5 separate regions of the Homo sapiens genome follow, and all the other regions are reported to be linked to region 1. Evidence: microRNA targets listed by miRTarBase, many of them from high-throughput screens and not tested one by one. Region 1 holds a microRNA gene; each other region holds the end of a gene's coding sequence.

Evidence for each region. Region 1 holds the annotated microRNA hsa-miR-543 (AAACAUUCGCGGUGCACUUCUU, at 2,685-2,706, opposite strand). A microRNA usually pairs through its seed, bases 2 to 8, with sites in the 3' UTR of a target mRNA and lowers its output. Matches are read on the target gene's strand: a 7mer-m8 pairs with bases 2 to 8, a 7mer-A1 pairs with bases 2 to 7 and ends in A, and an 8mer does both.
Region 2: miRTarBase lists ZNF711 as a target of hsa-miR-543. Seed matches in the 3' UTR shown: 7mer-A1 at 2,031-2,037.
Region 3: miRTarBase lists UBL3 as a target of hsa-miR-543. Seed matches in the 3' UTR shown: 7mer-A1 at 2,644-2,650 and 7mer-A1 at 3,544-3,550.
Region 4: the mRNA of NDUFB5 is a reported target of hsa-miR-543. Seed matches in the 3' UTR shown: 7mer-A1 at 517-523 and 7mer-A1 at 632-638.
Region 5: miRTarBase lists PTPDC1 as a target of hsa-miR-543. Seed matches in the 3' UTR shown: 7mer-m8 at 3,740-3,746.

Annotation. Positions count from the first base shown.
Region 1 is chr14:101,030,081-101,034,738 of GRCh38, reverse strand. MIR543 (microRNA 543) reads right to left here and starts at 2,752; the gene lies at 2,675-2,752. LOC124903407 (mucin-2-like) reads right to left here. Exons shown (of 5, transcript XM_047432049.1): 5 at 257-4,658. It overlaps MIR495 (microRNA 495), which reads right to left and starts at 984; the gene lies at 903-984. It overlaps MIR1193 (microRNA 1193), which reads right to left; the gene lies at 4,610-4,658.
Region 2 is chrX:85,270,738-85,275,348 of GRCh38, reverse strand. ZNF711 (zinc finger protein 711) reads right to left here. Exons shown (of 11, transcript NM_001330574.2): 11 at 1,992-4,611. The coding sequence ends at 3,521. Among named protein-coding and RNA genes, the nearest start is that of ZNF711, 29 kb to the right of the region's middle.
Region 3 is chr13:29,763,376-29,768,033 of GRCh38, reverse strand. UBL3 (ubiquitin like 3) reads left to right here. Exons shown (of 5, transcript NM_007106.4): 4 at 339-416; 5 at 727-3,663. The coding sequence ends at 779. Among named protein-coding and RNA genes, the nearest start is that of UBL3, 85 kb to the left of the region's middle.
Region 4 is chr3:179,623,819-179,627,818 of GRCh38, forward strand. NDUFB5 (NADH:ubiquinone oxidoreductase subunit B5) reads left to right here. Exons shown (of 6, transcript NM_002492.4): 6 at 102-3,829. The coding sequence ends at 222. Among named protein-coding and RNA genes, the nearest start is that of NDUFB5, 21 kb to the left of the region's middle.
Region 5 is chr9:94,107,142-94,111,799 of GRCh38, reverse strand. PTPDC1 (protein tyrosine phosphatase domain containing 1) reads right to left here. Exons shown (of 9, transcript NM_001253829.2): 9 at 1,947-3,972. The coding sequence ends at 3,856. Among named protein-coding and RNA genes, the nearest start is that of PTPDC1, 25 kb to the right of the region's middle.

The DNA of each region.
Region 1 (4,658 bases):
GCGGGGGCTGGGCGCACTGGCTCATGCCTGTAATCCCAGCACTTTGGGAGGCCAAGGTGGGTGTGGATCATGAGGTCAGGAGTTCAAGACCAGCCTGGCCAACATGGTGAAACCCCGTCTCTGCTAAAAATACAAAAAATTAGCTGGGCCTGGTGGCGGGCGCCTGTAATCCCAGCTACTTGGAAGGCTGAGGCAAGAGAATCGCTTGAACCTGGGAGGCAGAGGTTACAGTGAGCCAAGATCGTGCCATTGCACTCCAGCCCAGGAGACAGTGCGAGACTCTGTGTCAAAAAAAAAAGAAAGAAAAAAAGAAAAGAAAAGTAAAGAAAGAGCGGGGCAGGGAGGATTAGGCTCCAGTAAATCACCACTCTGAGAAATCCCATCTCCCAGAACCACAGGGACGCCTTCTGCCACAATTGCTACCCCCAATCAATTCTTCTGTGGAGGTGCGGGTGGCAGTCCCCCAGATGGCATGTCCTCATGTCCCCTTCAGCCATCCCCTCAAGCCTCTGGAGAGAGCGGATGGGGGCAGGGGTCTTCATTGCTTATTTGTTTTTGTTGTTGTGGCAGCTGCTTCCTTTTTTATTTTTTTCTTGGCTGCTATGATCTGAACTCTTCTCAAATGTTGGGGAACGCTTCTCAATGGAGCCTGGAAGTGCATCTCCCCAGCCTCCCTGGCAGCGGGGAACTGGCATGTGGTTGAGGCCTCGCCAACTGTGCCTGTCCGAGAGGTGGGCGTGGACTGAGGACTGAGGACTGAGCATGGTCCCTGAGCCCACCAACACACAAAGTCACCGAGGGGCTGCCAGGACAAATCCTCCATGTACATACCAAGAGAGGTAGTGACACCAGGTCCCATGCTCAGGGTCCCGTCGGGGATGGAGGCACTTCAAGGAGATATTTGATACCGAAAAAGAAGTGCACCATGTTTGTTTCGTCACATATAAAGCGAAAATAACATGGGCAACTTCTTTTCAGGTACCAGAGATGAGCACGTCCTCCCTGCCAGAGGCACACCTGGGCGTGAAGGGACACTGAGGGTCAGGGCGTGAGGGCAGGGCCGGGCAGACGCTGCCAATCAAACTTATGCTCAATTAAGCCTAAAAGCATCAGGTAAGTTGGCTCACCCCAGGGGAGGTGGGGGACATGCTTCGAAGGGCTGGGCTGACACTGAGCAGAGGCGGACAGTCATCACGGATAAAGCAAACCGATCCCAGACTCCCTCTACTTCGGGATCCCAGGAAGTCTTCATGGGCAGAATTCAATAATCAGGGCAGACGGCTTTCGGAATGTTTACTATCAACCCTGCAAATGCTCATGGAGAGCATCACTTCAGAGAAAATGGGATGGTCCTGGACCCAAAAATAGAATCTCCTCCATGAGCCCATGGTTCCAGGAAGGAGATGGGAAGACAAAGATATCGAATCAGGAGAAACAAACCACCAAGGCAGCCCCGGCTCTCGGTGGACCCATCTCTCTGTGCACCTTGCATGGTGCTGACCACTGCACCTCCTCTCTAAAGTGCTCCGGGTTCCCTGGAGGCATGGCTTGGTTCTAAAACACTGACAGTTAAGTGTGAGTTGTGACAAATACAGCCAACCCACAGAGAGCCAAAGGACAGCAGGGGCCAGGAAAGGACAACGGCTTCCCCAAGTCCACATCACTTGCAGGGCAGCCTCCCAGAGAGAGGTGGATTCGAGGGAGAGTGAATCGGGGCAGAAGTTCTGGGGCCCACCATCCATCAGGCCTTCCAGAGAGGACCCAGTGACCCATTGCTGGACACAAAACACGGTAATTGTGCATCATTTGTCAACCATAAATTAAATCACTAAGACAAAGCTTTGAAAGCATAAGTCCATAAGAAAAGTCACCTTCCACCAAAACCCTGCCTTAAATAGGACACTGAAGATAGATAGGCAAACCGTGAGAAACACATCATTGAAAAAAATGCAGGCTTTCCCAGTCACACTGGAAAACACACTGTGGTATCATCTGTTTGTATTGCAAGTAAGATAAGATCTAACTCCAACTGGCTTAAACAAGTAAGGGATTTATAGACGTATATAACTAAAAAGTACAGAGACAGAGCAAGCTTCAGGCAGGGTTTGATCTAGGGACTCAAATGATATCATCCAGGCTCTTCTCTAGGTCTCCAAGATGCCTTTCATGGTACAGACTCCCTCTGCTGTGTCTGCGTGGCACCAAGCCCTCTCCTCTCAGTCCTTAAACGGCTGTGGGACCTTCGAAGCTCACGTCAAAGTTCACTGTCTATTCCCAGCTGAATGGAATAGACAGTGTCTACTCTGGCAGCTATCACAGGAAAGGGAGAAACAGTTTCTTTCCCAGAAGCTGCAGCAAGCATCTCCTTGCCTATCACTGGCCCAGTGGGGTCATGGGCCTATTCCGGAAGCAATTGCAGTGGCAAAGGAGAAGAGATCAAGAGATTCGCTTAAGCCTGGGCTGGTGGAGGAAGTGGGGCAGGGTCAATGCAATCAAAGCACACGGCGGGAAGACGGGAGCTTTCATAAAAAAAAAAAAAAAAAAAAAAAACAAGGAGAAATTTAGGAAGGAGAAAAGACATGGGGTAGGGAGGTCCTGATCAGCGTCCACTACAGGGGCCCATGTGCCTTCCCTGAAGTTGCACCCAAACCAAGACGTCTTCAAGGCAGAATAGGATACTGAAAAAGAAGTGCACCGCGAATGTTTCGTCACAAATAAAGCGAAAAAAACACGGGCAACTTCTCATTAAGTACCGCACGTCAGCACCGTTGACAACACTGCTTCTCCGCGGCTGGTATCACTCCTGCGGGCTTCCTGAGAGCACATGGGTCCTGATGCGCACCGGGCAACCGGTGACAAAGATATGGCCGTGCATACAACCCCCTCAAGACCTGGGAGACATCTAACAGGTCTGCCCCCTCTGCACAGGTGGCATTGTGTCCTGGAGCTGCTTGTGAGCACGATGTGTTCAATTTCTCAATAACAAAAAGTCTCCTCCAGTAGCACAGAATATGACAATGGCACAGAAACAGTGATTTTGCATCCTAAAAGTCCTCCTGAGGATACATGAGGAGGGACCAGGAGAGTCACAATAACTCCCCAGATAAGATGGATGAGATCTACCACCCACCCTTTAGGGACAAACAGCAAAGTGTCTGCCCTGATGGAGCCTCTGAGCCAAGGGAGTCGTCATAGAATGGGTAGCGCAAGGGATTTTTTAACATTTGCCTCAAACAGATGGAATGACCAGGGGTCCTGGCACAGCGTCACCACTGTCGATCAGCCTGAGCCGGAGAAGAGCCCCCGGGGCAGACCGGAAGCTGCGGGTTAGGGAGGGATGAATGAGCAATGAATAAAACCCAAGTTCTCAGGTGGTCCACGTGGACAACTGACTTGGTGGTGGCAAATCCTCACCGGTTCCTGCATTCACACCTCACCACAACCCCCTCCCGGGTGGAGTGGGCCTCCCCGCCCCTTGCCTTGGGTTCGGCCGTGTAATTGTTCTGGTCAATGATCTGTGGGTAGAAATATAGCAGTTCCCAGCCTTGGCCTTAAGGAGTTTCTGCGTTTCTAATTACTTTCTTGTGCCTCTGCCGTAGCCATGGGAGCATACCAAGGCCGGGGTGAGAGCTGTGGGTCCCAACTTCAGCCCTCAGGGCAGGCCTTCTCTCCACAAGCCATCCTAGGTATGGGAGGGAGACTGAGGATGAACGGACCAAGACACACACCCGAAATAGAATGTCTGCTCTCAGACAAGATGTCCACTCCCATACCTCTCCATGGACCTGACGCCAACAGCCCTCCCCTGAAGCGCGTGTCACAGCCGGGACACATCTTCCGCAGTCTGACACTGAGGGCATCCAGGGCATCTGGGGCCTCGTAAGGCAAGCAGAGCTGAACAACAGACAGAGATGAGCAACGGCAACAAAGCCCTTTCCCCAAGCATGGACTGAACGCTGCCCACGAAGCGGCTGGATTCTGAGTGGTCCCAACACAGGAAGGGCTCATCTCAATCACGCTGCCAGCTCCTCAGTCCCCCATCCACGACTCACCAGGAGTGCTGCTGACACCAGTGGCCCTGCCGGAATCTAGCTTCATGTCCAGGAAGTCCTCCTATGGAAAAGAGATGGGCCACGTAGCATTCATCAAACACATGGCAAGCTTTGTCAGACAGCCTCTCTTCATGTAGCACAGAATAAAGTGGCCCTCACTACCACAGCTGTCCCAACGCCTGCCCTGTCCTGCACACACACAACACTCCTCAAACCCTTCCGAGGATAAACCACACCCCTGTACCAGGTCACACACACACCTCCTGCAGTCAGCATGTGGTGTGGGGTGGGACTTTCCCTGATGGGGCACTGAAGCCCAGGCCTCTGCAATCCTGGCATTGTCTGTGGCCAGACTATCAGCCCTCCTGGGCAGGATTTGAAACCAAAAGAGAGATTATTCACTGATGATTGCTTATATTGATTTTAACGAGGTAGGAGGAGGGGGCCCCGAAGGGAAACCCCTCCTAAAATCCTGCAGAGTCCCACGGGCCCCACGTCCTCCCACATCTTCTCCGAAGTTGCCATGTGCACCAAGATGTCATCCCACAGATGGACCGGGCGCTGGTGGATAGTCAAACGGGTGACCTACATCGTAAATGAAGTGCA
Region 2 (4,611 bases), not on the chromosome of region 1:
CTAAAGCCTTATTAGTTCAAAAAAATCGTACTGTATATAATTCCAAGCCTAGTCAGCTTTTTCTTGGTTCTCACAAGGGGAAGTTGAAAGAGTTAAATGAGATGATTATTTTGTTCCTCTGCCTTCATAGAGGACGAGTCATTTCCCCCTTGGAAGTAGGCATGTCAAGAATTGTGCTATATCCTTCAAAAATTGTTGCAAATATGTCTGGGATTTGCTACAAATTAAACTAGTAGGGGAAGGATGCATCAAAATAAGCTAATCAGGTGTAAGTGGATGAAGGGATAAGTGAGGAAGAATACAAACGAAACAAGATTAGCCATAAAGTGATAATTGTTGAAGCTGGGTGATGGCTATATAGAGGTTCATTATATTTTTCTATTTTTGTACACGGTTTTCTGCAATTAAAGGGATATATATCTTTAAGAGAAGTTCAAGGTTCAAACTAAACTTGTGGTTGTCATGTAAGAGACAGGAGCAGTTGAACTTAAGGGCCCTATCTGTGTAAGAGTTCCCAAATACTATCTTCTCCATCATGGCATAAGCAATTTAAAAGTGACAATTGGATAAATCCATCTACACATATGACCCTGAACTGTTCTGGAAAAATGATTTTTCAGTAATTCCCAATTTTTTCTTTGTCTTGTGAAGGTACTTTGACTTATAGATCTACATTCTAGGTGGAATCTGTCCTGGTATGTAGGAAAGCCTTATGCCAGGAAGTTCATGTCTGCTCTACCTGGGCTGGCATTTTCTAAGCCCAATATACAAGTAGAAGAAAATCCATATACTTTTCTCCAGCCCCACTGTAACCATGACAACTAGAGTAACCACTTAACATGGCTGCATCGTTCAGCTCCTCTACATTTCTTAGAGCCTCCAGAGTGATTTTCAAAACATGTAACAGCACTGTTTTCCTTAACTTTTCCCAAGGACTTCCCGTTTCAAACTTCTCATAGGTCTCATCTCTTTTTTTTTTTTTTTTTGAAACGGAGTTTCACTCTTGTCACCCAGGCTGGAGTGCGATGGCGCGATCTCGGATCACTGCAACCGTCTCTTATCACTCCCACTTGCTAACCATTGTCCAGCCAAAGCTTGTTGCATCTCAGGTTGTTTGCACCTGCAGGTTTCTCTGCCTTGCTCTTCCACAAGACCTTCATATGGCTAGCTCCTTCTTGCGACTCATATCTCAGCTCTAATGTCATGTCCTCAGTAAGAATTCCCTCTGTCCACTCACCCACAACTATCTGTTTAAGCAAAGTAATTAACATGTGGCAGAATTACAGCAGGTGCTTTTGTCTACCACCTTATTACTCATATGGTGGCAACACATGGGAACTTAATAGGAATGCAGAATTGTAGGCCCCACCCCAAATCTATTGAATCAGAATATGCATTTCAGCAAGTTCCCTAGGTGAGCCTCTACAGACTTTAGATTTAAGAAGCACTGGTCTAACATGTGAGGCTGATATTTTCCTTTTCTGCTAGTGATTAATTAATAATTAATAATTCAACTGACAAAGAGTCTTAACTAACAGTGCCATATATATAGAATTATATGAAATGCTCACTGGTTTGAACATAGAAAGTTATTTTTATGCTCATTTGCAGAAATCTTTGCCAAATACACACAACAATACTTTTCCTTTTGAATGTATATTGGGAACATAATTAGATGTATTCACTGCTCAGGATTGTGTCATTTAAGCAAGTTAAGAACTTTTAGTTTTCTCTCTAATATGAAATCTAAGATCTTAAAATGGACACTTTTATTTATAGTATTTCATTATGATTTTAGCAAATAACATACATTCTTAAGAAATATGCATTACATAGTCATCGTAACTGTTTAAATTCCTAGTTCATGTTGTTGTTCATGAACAAAATTCAACAAGACATTAAAGAAAGGACCAATCTGCCTAAGTAACTCTGAAGTGAAGTCTTTTAATAAAAAATATGGAAACTTTAAATAAACTTATAAAACCATTAAGTGCAATAAATGCTTTTTATTGTATGCTCATTTCAATGAGTAACATTTAGAAATAATAATCCCACATAACAGTAGCGATCTTATTTTACAGCGTGTACATCATTTACAGCCACATAACACACAATTTTAGTAGATATTCCAAATTTAATATTCTGAAGTTAAGAAAGATAAAAAATTTATTCTCAAGGAACTGATTCTTATCTGGTGCAAAAACAGAAAGGTGAACATTATTTGAAACACAAAGCCACAATATAGCATGAAGTAAAATTACATTTTAATTATGTTGAACAGCTGAATGTAAACATGAAGCAACTAAAACTTAAAAGTACATATCATATGCATTACATTTATGAACAGGATTTTCATAAAATTTCCCTAAACCAGCTTTTAATATTAAGTGCCATTTTGATTTGCAGCATGCTAACACAAAGCGTTGTTAAAGGGATGCATATTTTAAGTTTATACACTGTAAACTAAATATCCACCTCCAAACTCTATTGGCAGCAGATTGCTCTGTTAAATACTGCATAAACACTGCCTCATATTGAAAATGCATGTTAATCATATGGTATATAGATTTTAAAAATCAATTTCAATAATGGCATAAAATTGCACCTTTAAACATTAGAGCAAGTAAGACTAGAACAATCATACTTGCTAAGACTGTCCTAAAAAAACTCTAGACATTATAATATTTAAGAAAACTGTGTTCTCTCAAATTAATCTTTAGATCATTAAGAAATATAGTGCTGATTTTGTTTGCAACGCTAATGTTGCATCCATTTTAGAAAGCCACATTTGACTCAAATATACTTTTGTCATATATGCCATACTGAACAACAATCAACTTGAACATCAGAAAAAAGGGAACTTTAATCTTTATAGACTTCACCTTAGATCTCAGCACAGAATGCTATATTTTAAGTATCCTATCCTGTGATAAAATATTAACAGCTCTGAATTCTTTTTTAATAGTACTGAATTAATCTAACCTGTTTTCCAGTTAGTTTTCTTTTAATGAATACACAAAACTTTTGTCATTGCTGGAATTTAATTTCCAGGTACAATATAAAAGGCTCAATGACTAAGTGACTGATGAATGACCACATTTTGTTTCCCTGCCCCATTTCTAAAATTGCATAAAAGTGGGTTTGCTTGCTATAGCAAAGCATCACTAAACTCAATTATGTATTCTCTTCTCAGAAACATTTGTATCTAACATAATCAGCCAAATAAAGTATTTGTCTTTGCTTTTCCCCTCTGTAGTTTAAGTATGCATATAATACTATTACACAGATACTTAAGAAGTTTTTCTGTAACCATTCTATAGTGCTTCTTAAATTCTTTAAGTAATTTTCAAAGGGCTATGGGATCCCCTGTGAATTCAAATATTTTAAGATCTTTAATACAAAGAATGTAAAGTCATGGTTTAGTATCAAGCTTTGAAACCCGGTGAGACAGTTAGTGAGAGTTTTCTCCCAAGTAGCATATCATATCTCCTAAATAGCTTCTTTCTTTATATTGATCTTATTACATAAGAGCCTCTTTGTGGTGCCTCATAATATGCTGATTTTTTTCTGATGGTCTTCGGAATCCCTTCTTGCAGAATTCACACCTGTGTGGATAGTCTTTTGTATGTATTGATATCACATGTCGTTTAAAGCCAGATGCATCTGTAGTGCTGTATTCACAATACTCACATTGGTAAATCTTCCTTCCAGTATGGGTCTTCATATGTTTTTTTAGCTCATTTTGTTGTCTGAATCCTCTCTTGCACCTTTTACATTTCAATGGCTGATCTTTAGTATGAACTGAAAGGATATGGCCACTAAGAATAAATGGATCGGATGTTTTAAAGTCACAGTGCCTGCACTGATGAATCTTCCTACCCTTATGGATATCACTATGCTTTTTGAGCTCAGAAGGACGATGAAAACCTTTATCACAGACCTCACATTTGTGAGGAAAATCCTTAGTATGGACAGATATGATGTGCCGCTTAAGGTCACTTGAATTGGTGCTCTTATGGTCACAATGAGGACACTGGTGTGTCTTATGTCCTTGAAACAAATCCAGATGGCGTTGAAGCTCCCTCTCATCACCAAATGCTTGGGGACAATGCTCACATTTATATGGCAAATTGTTACCATGTTTAGACTTAATGTGAGTTTTCAGATTTGATTGATCTGCACACCTGAAAATACAATACTGACACTGATATGGCTTCTCACCAGTATGGGTTCTCATATGTTTCTTGAGTTCAGAAGGATGTCGAAAACCCTTCCCACACTCAACACAAACATGAGGAAAATTCTTGCTGTGAACGGCCAACAAATGCCTGTTTAACAGTCCTTGTTCTGCAGTTTCATAGTCACAGTATTTGCACTTGTGCATCTTCGGCTCCTTGTCTCTTAAAATAAGTTTATTGGAACTCAGTGGACTAGCCTCTCTGTATCTTCGTGTGTATTCTGTAAATTCATGGGTTTTGTCGACTTTGTTTATGAGCTTATGGCTTTCTAAGTGGTTATGGAAACTCACTTTCTTGTTAGTTGTAAAGTCACAATCTGTACACTGATATTTTTTTCTCATTAAATGATCAGGATGATTCTTCATGTGTCTTT
Region 3 (4,658 bases), not on the chromosome of region 1:
CCTAATATAGAAAAGAGTATTCTTTTAAAAAAAATTTAATCCTTTCTCCTCTAAAGGTGGCCTCTGATATTAGCCAATTACATATTTTTTCTTATATCATCTCTTAATATGGATAAATGTGTCAAGCAAATGGCTATATAACTGCAAAAAATAATTTCTAAATTTTAAATGTTATTTCTGATAATATTAACCTAATTTTGTGAAGGTACTCTGAGTTAAGTTGAATCTGTTAAAGAAGTCATAAAAAAGCAATCAATTTTTAAAATGGTTTTAAATCTGGATAGTGATTTTAATAGGTCGATATATGTGTAACTAATCATCTTTTGCTTTTCACATAGCATTAAAACTTCCTTTTGGCAAAACAACAGTGATGCATTTGGTGGCCAGAGAGACATTACCAGAGCCAAACTCTCAAGGTAAGCCATGCACTGGAAAAGTATCTCAGTTGAGGCACAAAGACAGGCATTCAAAAATGCTAGGTTTTTCTTGGATATGCTGAGGGAAGGGAAGTTTGCATAGTTTATGAATAGAGATTGTCAAGCAAATAACCAGACATTTTTGAAACATGCTAAAATTAAAAGAACATTTATTACAGCTTCTTAATTTTGAAAAATGCAAACATTTTTAAAAACTCAAAACTACTACTTCCTACACTTGATTGCCTAGCCCATTTTCCCCTCCAGTTCTAGAATTTTTATAAACGAGGCTCTTCTTCGTTTTCCCTAGGTCAGAGGAATCGTGAGAAGACTGGAGAGAGTAATTGTTGTGTAATCCTGTAAACACTGTCTGCCTAGTGTGATGTGATATAGTCTTTGTCTTTCATGCTGCTGGGACAGAAAAGACCCGACATTGCTTCAGAAACCGTTCAGAACAGTCTGCCTGTAAACACATGGAACTGAATTACCACATGAACACTGTCATCTTTTCTCATGAAAGTAAAAAGAACCAAGAACATTTTTCACTCTGATTTTTTATTTCTTGTATTTTTTGTTGAGCTGTTTTAACACATATTGGTTTTTGAATGCAGTCAATCTCCAGGGGAAAAGTTAACAAGTTATCTTTCGTAGCAGAAACCATTTTGCTGCCACAAAATTTTCATCATCAGAACTAATAAATCAAGTGTTCCAAATACAATTTGCATTAAAAAGATTGGCATTATTTTCCTCATCAGCAGAATTTATAACAGTGTGTGGTATCTAGAAATACTTATATATACAATTCCACACTGGAAGACACTCAGCAATTAATGAAGTTAATTACTGGGCCAACTTGAGAGGAAAAAATGGAAAAGAAACTAAAATGTTGGGTGAATTCTACCAAAGTCAGCCGTGGTGGCTGCACTGGCACAGAATACTAAACTGAGTGTGACTATTTTCACTGCAACAAATGAAAAAACAAAATGTGCCTGTTTAAAGCACTCAGTAGAGGGCTGATGAAACTAATTTTTTTTCCTTTAAGACATGCACTCTTGAGTCCTACAGTAACTGAGTGTTTGTTTAGACAGCACAAGAAGGGGTGAGAGTGCGTCTCCTAGCCTTAATGTGGGAGGGTAGTTTCAGTCACTCATCGGCTTTCATTATTGTGCAGAAATATTAGAAAACCTCATTGATCAATTTTATGTATTTGAATATCAGCAAATTGAAATTTTCCATAATTATCATTAATTTGTAACCACATCCAGTGTCATGCTTACTCCTTAGAGTTCAGATGAATTCTTAAAATTAAAAAAAAACTCCATAGTACTAATTTTGTTTCTTTATATAGTTTGCGTTTGATATTAGTGCTTGCAATTGTATTAAAGTCAAAAGCTGATTTTTATGGCATACACAAGAATGCCACTTTTTCTTTTATTTCATACCAATAATTTAAAGATTGATATGCTAAAAACAATTTGCACAGCACTAAAGCATGAGCTACTTTCATCTAAACCTGTAAAAATATGAAAGATTTTTATATTTTTTCACTGGGAAGAAATTCTTCCTGGATGAAATTACAAATATGTGTAGAATATATTTAATAAAAGACTTATAAAATACCTAACTACAGGACTTAAAATATAGATTGGCGCGTAGTATACAGAACAATATTCCATATAAATAAGTTTAGCCTTTATAAAAATGAAGTTGCAGGCTGACATTACATTCTGTACTAAGTGTCAACAGCCCTTACAAACATTAAATGTAAATGGTTTCAAATGGTCAGCGTTGTTTAAATGTAATCATGTTATTTTATTCATTGTTAATGCTTTGATGAAAAGGCTTTATATGCAGTAGATCTACGAAAATATTGTTCATACTGATCAGAATTAAATTTGTATAGAGCAGAGTTTTAAAATGAATGTAAATAGCACTAAACGTTTTCTTTCTGCAACCTGTACTTACAGATTCTTCCTGTAAACTAAATAAAAAAAAAATGATAGTGCATTTTGGTGGTAATTTTAAAGGTCTTGATTAGGTCAATAATTGTTTAAGCACCGTCTCATTCATGTTTTCTACTTTCATTTCTTAAGCTTTTAAAATTCATTTAATTAATATTCTGTTGTTGTTTTGGGGAGTATTCCCAATGTATCTTTGATATTTAACCTGGTTAATTTGTGGACAGTCACAACAATGGATAGAATTATGTAGTCTCCGTTATCACTAAAATGTTATCTTCAAGAGATGTTAAATATTTATATGCTTTGTTGACTAGCTGAAATGTGAATTCTGTTAGTGTTGACTAAAGAATCTGGTAGTTGCTTAATTGGGCAATTAAACAATTTATGGCTCTATTTTGTAAAACAAACTACTGGTAATTATTTTTAATACCTATTTTCATTCTGATTACTCTTTTTTTAAGTTAAAGACTATCAGTTAATTAAGATTGAGTTTTTATGATGGTTAAAAATAATTCTCTATTGGTTTTTCAATATATTTTTCTGTGTGTTCTCAGATTATATATTTCCCTCAATTTAGAGTTTGCTAAGTGAAATAAACTGGTTCACTAGTAGAGAAAGAATTACGTCGCTTAATACCTAATATCATAGTTGTACAATATGAAAAAAAAGAATAAAAAGTAGCAGTAAAATTATATACTGAAAACACCAAAAATTTAGATGCCTTAATAGTATATACGTGAAATACTCAGCTGTCCCTTTAAAAATAATTCCTTGGACTGCCTGGTGGTTAAAATACGATTCCTCATATCCAAGGCTACTTTTGAAGATCCCTCTGCCAAAAATATAGCTCACTTATCTAAAGGTGAGAGCTGCATAGATCCAGTAATGTACATAAAGCCTGAATGATGAGCCTATGTCCCTGCCTAACGCTGGTGTCTCACTCATCTCTTTTACCTAAATTGTCCTGAACTTTGTTAAGTGTTCTGGACAAGGCCAAGCTTTTCTTTATTAAAACCTCAGCATGTCTCCCTGATCTGAACTATTTGCTTTCTCTTCAAGATAAGTTGTATTTTACCATGGAAAAATACAGTATCTAACATTACCATTCACGTTAAATGAAGTTTCCTCATAACATTTATCTTTAGTTTTATGAAGTCATCGTGACCAATGTTACAGTAATTTCTGTTAGCTGATTGTGGTAAACAATGTTTAATGTGAAAAGAAATTAAAACTTTCTTCATCTGTTGTAGAATATTTCTCTTCTTTAAAATGGCTTCTATTCATAATTCTGGTGTATTTGCCTATTCTTTATTTCACTACTGTTTATGTCTTTTTTTCTTTCTTCAGTTAATGATACTCTTCAGTAAAAATCAACATTGAGCCAGCCTTTGCTATAGTTTAGCAAAATCAAAGGGAAGTATCAGCCAAAATTTAATATGCCTTCATACCGTTTTTATTTGTAACTTTTTCGAGCATTCCAGTTTGTTTTCCATTTTTGTGTTATAATATGGTCACTTGTTAGCCAAATGGAGTGATTGGGGTGGAGTGATTGGGGTGGGGGAGAAGGCACATGACCTATAATTACAAACACAGCTATAATTGAAACACAGCTGCAGGCTGTGCTGGAGTCTAGGCACAGTTTTTGTGGCCAGGGTAGGGTGGGGTTCTTGGGTGTGAGCAGTGGTAGTTGGGTGTGACTCCTGGCTTACCCTGACCCCCTGCCAGTTGGTGTGTTTCCTTCAGAAGGCAGTGGCTTCTATGAGGCTTTTACACAGGAGGTGGTTGACTTCTGAAAGAGATCATGGATAGAACTAAATGAGAAACACTTAGTTCTTAAATATCAGAGTTTAAAGCAGTACTGAAATGTGAAAACCAATTTCACTTACTACATTATTTTATAGTCTTCGACAGTGATGTCAGATGTTTGTCTTTTAATATTTTTCATATTCCTCTTTTTCAAAATGACAGCTTTCAAGAAATATGGAGTAGGCATAGTAAATTCCCATTTGGGGAAAGGAAATGCCCATCTCTTCCACGTGAGTCAACCAATAAAAAAGGAGTTGGGTAAACACATTTTCTAAAATGGCTCTGGAAGTGGTTTGTTGTTAGAAGTCTTAGAAGAGTCTGGCTGGTTTTAGAATGTAGTAATTACACATTCAAACATTATTTGGTATCTTTTATTTTCTACACATGTTCTTGAAGCTTATTTGATGTAAGGGAAGTCTTACAATGAAGTGGGAGAAACTTTGCTATAGTTAAATAATACAAGGAGGCAGCAGAA
Region 4 (4,000 bases), not on the chromosome of region 1:
ACATAAAAGCAGACTCCAGTGATTGTCCTTTATGGAAATGGCTCATTAAATTTATAATTGGAAGTGCTGGAATCTCAATATTGCTGTTCCATTTGTTACAGGGTAAAGGAGCTGGAAGTGCGAAAATTGATGCATGTGAGAGGAGATGGACCCTGGTATTACTATGAGACAATTGACAAGGAACTTATTGATCATTCTCCGAAAGCAACTCCTGACAATTAAGCATTTTTTTCTCCAAATACAAAGTATATTCTCTTTATTGGAAAATAAATTAATAAATATATTCTGTATTTTTGCTCTCCGTGAAAAACAAAAGAGCCTCTGACATTACTGTCTCTCAGTGTTGGTTCAGATTGAGGCTTTTGTTTGAGGAGTTTGGCTTCCAGTCCCCAAAGAAGGTTTAAAATGTACTAATAAAAACTGGAGAAATAGGAATTTGTGAACTCCTAAAATTGTAGCAACTTTGAAAGGTTAGTGTTTTATTTACCTGACAAATGGAAGTTATAGAAGTCTAATAATGTTAAGCACCAGTAATTATAGTATTTTGTACAAATGCCTGTACTGTAGATGTCTGTATTATTGAGGGGCAACTCAGGATTTTAAGTTCCATAAAGTATTGAACCAACTCTAAAATGTTAACTCCTTAATAAACAGATTCTCAGTAAACAAATTTTAAAGTTTATAATGCTTTCATGGTTTTTTTTTTTGCCATGTATTGTTCTTTTTTAAACTACACACAGACACACAGACACGTACACACACACACACACACACACACACACACACGCTCTTTTCCTAGATGCAATCTCTGGGATCCCTTAGAGTCCTTTTTTGGGGAAGTAGTTGCACTAGGTAATGTGATTCCTGCAGAGATTATAAAATGTGAGTAAAAGCTAAAAATGACTCATTTATTAAGCATTTATTGTCTGCTAGACACTATATTAAATAACTGCATTTTTTAACATTATTTTCTTTTCTTTTTTTTTTTTTTTTTTTTTGACGAAATCTTGCACTGTCACCCAGGCTAGAGTGCAGTGCCGTGATCTCGGCTGCAACCTCCGCCTCCCGGGTTCAAGCAATTCTTGTCTCAGCCTCCCAAGTAGCTGGGATTACAGGCACCCACCACCACACCCGGCTAATTTTTGTATTTTTCAGTAAAGACTGTTTCGCTGTGTTGGCCAGGCTGGTCTTGAACTTCTGACCTCAGGTGATTGGCCTGTCTCCACTTCCCAAAGTGCTGATTACAGGCCTGAGCCACTGCACCCAACATTATTTTCAAAATGACAAGAGGTAGTATTTAGTACCTGAGGCTCAGATGTTAAACACAAACTCAGTATTTACAAAAATAAACATTTAAAACATTTACACTTCAACTTCCAAAATGGCTTTTTACCATAAACATTCAGGATTTTCAAACCTGTAACAGCTTATCAATGCATCTCATCTTAGAAGTATGTTTTACATTCTTCATAAAAATAAAAATGAACCCAGGCTTCCTAAGATTCAGGCCAGTGGGTCTCCACTTAAGGCCAAATGGAGAAATAATTTTTTGCTGCCTAAACACACAAGTGAATTGAAAAGCCACAGGCCATTCATTCAACAAATAACTTTATTATTTTTATTGATAATGTACTTGTAATGTGCTATTTTGATACATGTATGCAAAGTATAATGGTCAAATCAGGGTATTTGAATATACATATATTTCAAAATATAGTTATATATTTCAAAATAAGATATAGCAAGTTAGAAGTATATATAAGTATATTATTATATGTTATTGTTAACTATAATTTACCTACTGTACTATCAAATACTAGAACTTATTCCTTGTATCTAAATGTATTCTTGTAACCATTAACTAACTTTTCTGAATTTCCTACTCTCCCCTTCCCTTCCCAGCCTTGTAACCACCTTTCTACTCTGCCTCCATGAGACCCATTTTTTAATCTCCCACATATGAGTGAGAACATTCAATATTTGTCTTTCTAGGCTTGGCTTATTTCACTTACATTAATGACCTCCAGTTCCATCCATGTTGCTACAAATGACAGAATCCCATTCTTTTTCATAATATTGTCCATACATACCACATTTTCTATATCCATTTATCTGTTGATGGACACAGGTTGCAAAGGGATTGCTGGATTGTATGATAATTCTATGTGTAGTTTCTTGAGGAACCTTCATGGTGTTCTTCATAGTGGTTGTACTACTGTACATTCCTACCAATGGTGGATGAGCGTTCCCCTTTCTCCACATCCTCACAAGCATTTGTTATTTTTTCTTTTTTTTCAAATGAACATTTTAACTGGGGTGAGATATCTTAATGTGGTATTGGTTTACATTTCCCTAATTATGGTTGAGCATTTTTTCACATATCTAATGGCCATTCATATGTCTTCCTTTGAGAAATGTCTATACAGATCTCTGGCCCTTTTTTTAAATTTTTTTTTTTTTTGAATTGGGGTCACCCAGTCTGGAGGTGATCTGGGCTTCCACATCCTGGGCTCAAGTGATCATTCCACCTCAGGATGACCCAAATAGCTAGGACCAAAGGCGAGTGCCACCATGCTCAGCTAATTTTTTTGTATTTTTTGTAGCGACTGGGTTTCACCATGTTGCCCAGGCTGGTCTTGAACTCCTGTGCTCAAGTGATCCGCTCACCTTGGCCTCTCAAAGTGCAGGTACTTTAGGCGTGCCTGGCCTTTTTGTCCATTTTATTTTTTTGAGATGGAGTCTTGCTGTGTCACCCAGGCTGGAGTGCAGTGGTGCGATCTCGACTCAGTGCAACCTCCGCCTCCCAGGTTCAAGCAATTCTCCTGCCTCAGCCTCCTGAGTAGCTGGGATTACAGGTGTGCACCACCACACCCAGCTAATTTTTTTGTATTTTTAGTAGAGAGGGGGTGTCACCATGTTGGCCAGGGTGATCTTGAACTTCTGACCTTGTGATCCACCCACCTTGGTCTCCCAAAGTGCTGGGATTACAGGTGTGAGCCACTGCGCCCAGCCTGTCCATTTTTTAATCAGGTTATGGGTTTTTTGCTATTGAATTGTTTGAGTTCCTTATATATTCTGGTTATGAATCCCTTGTTAGATGGTGTGTTAGGCCATTCTTGTGTTGCTATAAAGAAAATCCTGAGTCTGGGTAATTTATAAAGAAAAAAGGTGTAAATGGCTCATAGTTCTGCAGACTGTACAGGAAGCATGGCACCAGCATTGCTTGGCTTCTGGGGAGGCCTCAAGGAACTTTCACTCATAGCAGAAAGCAAAGCAGGAGCAGGCACATCACATGGCAAGAGAGCAAGAGAGAGAGGTGGAGGAGATGCCACACACTGTTTTAAACAACCAGATCTCTCAGGAACTCATTGTTGTTAGAAAAGGAATTAAAAGAAATCAAAGAGTGTGTAAGCAGAAACTCAGTTGTACGTAAGAAAACCCAATTCCCCCTGAGAAAGAGAAAGAGCTGGAGTCCTTTAAAAATTCACTGCCTGTTTTTCTGGTGGCTAGTGAGTGTTAGCTCTCCTCCCTTCCCAGGCATTGTGAAGACCCTGTTTCCCTAGCTGTGCAGCTGCAAGGTCACTAGACAGATAAACTCAAGTCGCAAAACATGTTTTTCCTTGAAAAGTAAGAAATGATGTAATGCATGTCTTGACTGAATAACTGTCTTTGTTTCTTGCTTCTGTAATATGCTTCCCCCTGCACAGATCTCCCCCTGCCCCACGAAATGCTTAAAAGCTAACTTAACTCTTTGTTCAGGGCTCAGTCCTTTGGATGTTAATCTGACTGGGCCGGAGCACCTAAATAATAAATATTCTCCTGAACCCCATCGGTCTCTCTGATTCCTTAAAAATCCTGCAACATTGTGAGGACAGCATCAACAGGATGATGCTAAACGATTCGTGAGAAATTTGCCATTATGATCCAATCACCTCCCACCAGGCCCCACGTCCAACACTGGGAATCACATTTCAACATGAGAGTTGGGGGGACGAATATC
Region 5 (4,658 bases), not on the chromosome of region 1:
AGGTAAGGGCTTAGCAGGCTTCTCTTACTGTACAAGTTTCAGTGGATGTATGAAACTTTTATTTTCGTTGCAAAAGGTTTTATGACATTTAAGTCTTATTGGGACATTATTTTTAGTGACTGAAGGGCTTTGAACAAAGGCTTGTCAAGCTCCAATACTGAATGGTTCCATTGTGATTATTTATAAATCAGTTTTATTGTCAGTGTTGAGGTAATCAGAGATTAGCTCATGCCTAAAAGCATAACTAAAAAAATAATGACCCACTGAGAAACAGGATTTTGTTGAATTTTTCTCCTGCTACTTTATCTATAAACAATTTGCAGCCATCTAGCATTGAGAAAAGCTCTCTTAGGTAACATGCTAATCTTGTGCCATTCATAAAAAGCATCAAAGAGAACATTGTTCTTGATTTACCTGCACTGAAAATATATTAATGCTTGCTAATTTGGAATAATAATAAAGATCCTATGAGTAAGCTGTCATTTTTAAATTGACCCCCCAAATTACATGGGGCTGTCAGATGTCAAGAACTTGGGGCTTGCATTCTATCTACATTACACTGTCCCTGGATATTTTTTCGGACATGTGGAGACTAGCCTGAAATAGCACCCAATCATATCAGCAAGCATTCTCCATTTAAGAGAAAATAGAGACACTTTACCTCTGTTGAATTATGATATATGGTGGTTTTCATGGAATCCAGAACGATGAAGCAAGTACTTTTTCTCAGATAAGACTGGCAAGCTGGATGAAGATATGACTAAGTAACTCAGCACAGATTTTCTGAGTTACATAAATAAATGAAGCGAGCTCTACCACCAGCAGCAATTTGTCTCAAAGGGCATTAGTAAGCTCTCTGAAGTAAGAAAAGGCAACAGTGGCAAGAAATCATGTACTTCCTCTAAGTGTGATATACTAGAGAACATCATAGGATAATAATAGAGCTGGTTCAGCCTTTTCCAGGACAGATGTGTGATATTTTCACTAAGTTATGGACAGCACAGTGTTCTCTTAATGCCATCATAAAATTTAGTGCTAAAGGGACCTCAAGGTCCCTGAGAAGGCACTTTGACGGGCAGCTTTGCCAGGTTAAGAGTCCTATAGGCAGGTAACATGAGCAGAGAGGAGGGCACAGCACGGGGTCCATTGGACTCCACATCTCACGTCACACAGTTATGATTAAGACTTCTGAGGCCAGGTGCGGTGGCTCACACCTGTAATCCCAGCACTCTGGGAGGCCGAGGTGGGAGGATCACTTGAGCTCAGGAGTTCAAGACAAGCCTGGGTAACATGGTGAAACCCTATCTCTACAAAAAATACCAAAAAAACAAAAAAACAAAAAATTAGCCAGATGTGATTGCATGTGCCTGTAGTCCCAGCTACTCAGGAAGCTGAGGTGGGAGGATGGCTTCAGGCTGGGAGCGGAGGTTGCAGTCAGCCAAGATCATGCCACTGCATTCCAGCTTGGGCTACGGAGCGAGACCCCCGTCTCAAAAAAATATATATAAATAAATGAAATAAAAAAGACTTCTGTCAAGATAATTCAGTGAGGTAATGGATACGGCTGGCCCATGGTAAGTTCTTAATATGTGTGTGCCCTTAACCTTCCTATTTCTGTTGAACTGAATTTTTCAACCTTATCACTTCTCCCAATATGTGAGATTTCTGTCCTCTGGGCTACAAAGAACTCCTCATCCAAATATGGGAAGTTAGGAATCTTGTCAGCTTGGAGATTTTCCCCAGCTATTCCTCTTAGAACTCACCTATCCCAACCCCCCAGTGTTTGGTCATGCTGAACTGATGGAAGGAGTCTGCACTAACTAGAGCTTGGCTCACTGAATCAGCCGACAACTCAATCTGCCTATTAGGATAATCTAAGACAAAACCTTGTCTTTATCATCAGATGTCCTAGAGCATCAAGGTAAAGAAGTACAGGACTAGGATTATGGGTTGCTCTTTTTATTTTTATTCAAATAAATACAATACTTATGTATAGCCTGATTAATTTCCCTTGTCATATCTCTTTTTTCAGGTTTCAGGCTTAGATTTTTAGTTGTGCCATGCTATGGTCACATCATAACTGTTCTCTAAGTTGAAACAAGTATTTCAACAGGCAAATAGCAAACTCGCCAAAAGACCTGTGGGTCACTTGCCCAAATGAGGCCTACTGAGATGAGAACAAACATCTTTTTTTGGTAAAAACTCTATTTTTATAGTGTATCTTTGGATATAATGCAATTGTTTCTTCCCCTTCTTTCCCAGGCCAGGCACTTGAAAATAAGACATTTCAGGGATGGGCAACCCACTCCATTAACATCCACTGGACTCAATTTCCCAAGAAAATTAAAACAGTGTGAAAGAACACTGCATTTAGCATTTGGCATTTCAGTTAATGAGACTGATAATGACTGAAATATTTTTGATGTGCTAGAAGTCAATTCAGAAATGTAGGACTGGAGAAATTTCATTTGTTCTAAATGAGTCTTGCTTCCCCTGAAATTCCGTCTTTAAGCAGTAACTTCTTTAGTTCGAAATTAGTCTGATTAATATCACCTTTATTGGGAAGAACTATTATCCTCTCTGTGGCTTGGCCTCTGGTATCTACGTATATTAATTTAAATAAAAGTATGGCTTCAACTGATAATTGATGGTTCAGCTTACAAGGAACTAGTTTAGGCAGTCACCCTTCTTACATGAAGCCAGTTAGGGCTAATGCAACCTGTATGGTCAACTTCAGTTTAAAAATCTTAATTCTCATTGTAAGAAAGCAGCCAAATATAAAGCCTTGAGGCAAGTGGGTCTATGGAGTGGCAGATTTGGGAGTGTGGGGCCAGGGCCACGCTGCTCATGCTAATACACCATCAGTACAAACAGTGGCCCAGTTTTGACTTCCTCCAGCTCCAAGAGTCACCTCTGCAGAGTGGCTGTGGCATCTGAGAGAGCAGGGCTGGCACAGAGCCCCTGCCCTGCACGAATATCCCTGTGGAGTCCCCGGGAGGACAGAGGCAAGCCCTGCTTCTTAGCAACTTTCCACACTTCCTGCCTCTGATCCCACTTCCTCTGTAAAGATGCTATTTGGCTCAGCAGCAACCCAAGGGAGTGGGAATAAGGCTTGGTGTGTTGAGAACTGCTCCTGCCTCCTTTTGACAGCCAAGGCTGGCAAGGTTGTTTGGAAATCTGACAAAGAGCAAGTCTACTTTCTACAAGCAAAAAATCCCAACCACTTCACAGTCACTCCATTAAAGTAAAACTAAATCTCTCTGAAAAATAATATGCTTTGAAACCCTCTGTTACATTTATAAAAAGAAAAGGAAAAACAAAAAATTTCAAAGTTAAAAAAGAAACCTTTAAAAATATTGTAGCAATAGCCTTCTTCGTAACAAATATAAAACAGCTTAAGACACTTGGTGACTTTCTTAGTTCATCTGTGGGGGAATGGATACACAATGAGGTTTTACTACTAAAGTTAGCTATTTGGTAAAAACTCTAGGAAGAGTTCCATCAAGAAAATGGTTATTTTGGAAAGACAAGTTATGATTATTTCCAAAATGTCAAAAGAAATAAGAATGTAAACACCATATACTTAAAATGTTAATACAATAATATTAACTCAGTCAAATAAATAAAAGAAAGTGGCACCAAATTTATGGCAATTTTTCAAAACAAAAATGTAGCTTAAATATATTTTAAAATAAATAATTGGTTCAAATACGGACGACCATTCTCAGCACAAACTAACAACATTCAAAATAAAGTGCTATGAGAAAAAGTAGCCCCACAATCTTCAACTTATTCACATATGAACAGAGATACTATCTGGATCTTTAGGTCTGAAATATTCACCACGAGTGAAAGCTAGAGGCCAGGCTTAGGGCCATCTTTTGTCATTTTTCTTTTTTCTTCCAGCGTGTGCTTAAATATTTTCTTCAGGGTGTTGTAAACTGTTGGTCCATTTTCAGAATCAAAATTAACCTGGTGACAAAGAAATTTATATTCAGGACACTGTAACAAGAATTTGAACTAGTTTCTATTTTGAGAGAAGGAGGGGGTGGAGAAAAAAAACAGACTTACAAACAAAACTCTATATAAAATACACATAATAAATTTCACACATTTTATTTGAAAGACTATTAGAACTGCCAACCATGTCAATATCAAACTTATGAATGAAAACCCCAAAATTAAATCTAGTGCCTGGATATTTAGTCTAATTATATACACCCAGTCATGAAGCAAGTCAACAGTGGGTGTGAAGTGAATTTTTTGAGACTAATCATTGATGGTATAAGAGAAAAGTTTCCCATATTAAAACAGCACATCAGCTGTATACGTCCTGCTGAGAGGCCCTACGGCCACTCTGGACAGGGTCAGAGTGACCTGAATAGAAGCCCAGCTCCCCACCTGCCAGCTACATGTCCTCATCTCATACCCAACCTCTCTGGACCTTGATCTCCTCCTTTGTAAAACAGAGATAATGATACCCACCTTCATAGGATAGCGTATCTATGAGTCTAACATGTTTGGCACATATATACAAACCTCAACTGGCTGGGTGTGGTGGCTCATGCCTGTAATCCCAGCACTTTAGGAGGCCGAGGTGGGAGAGTTGCTTGAGCCCAGGAGGTTGAGACCAGCCTGGGCAACATGGCAAAACCTCA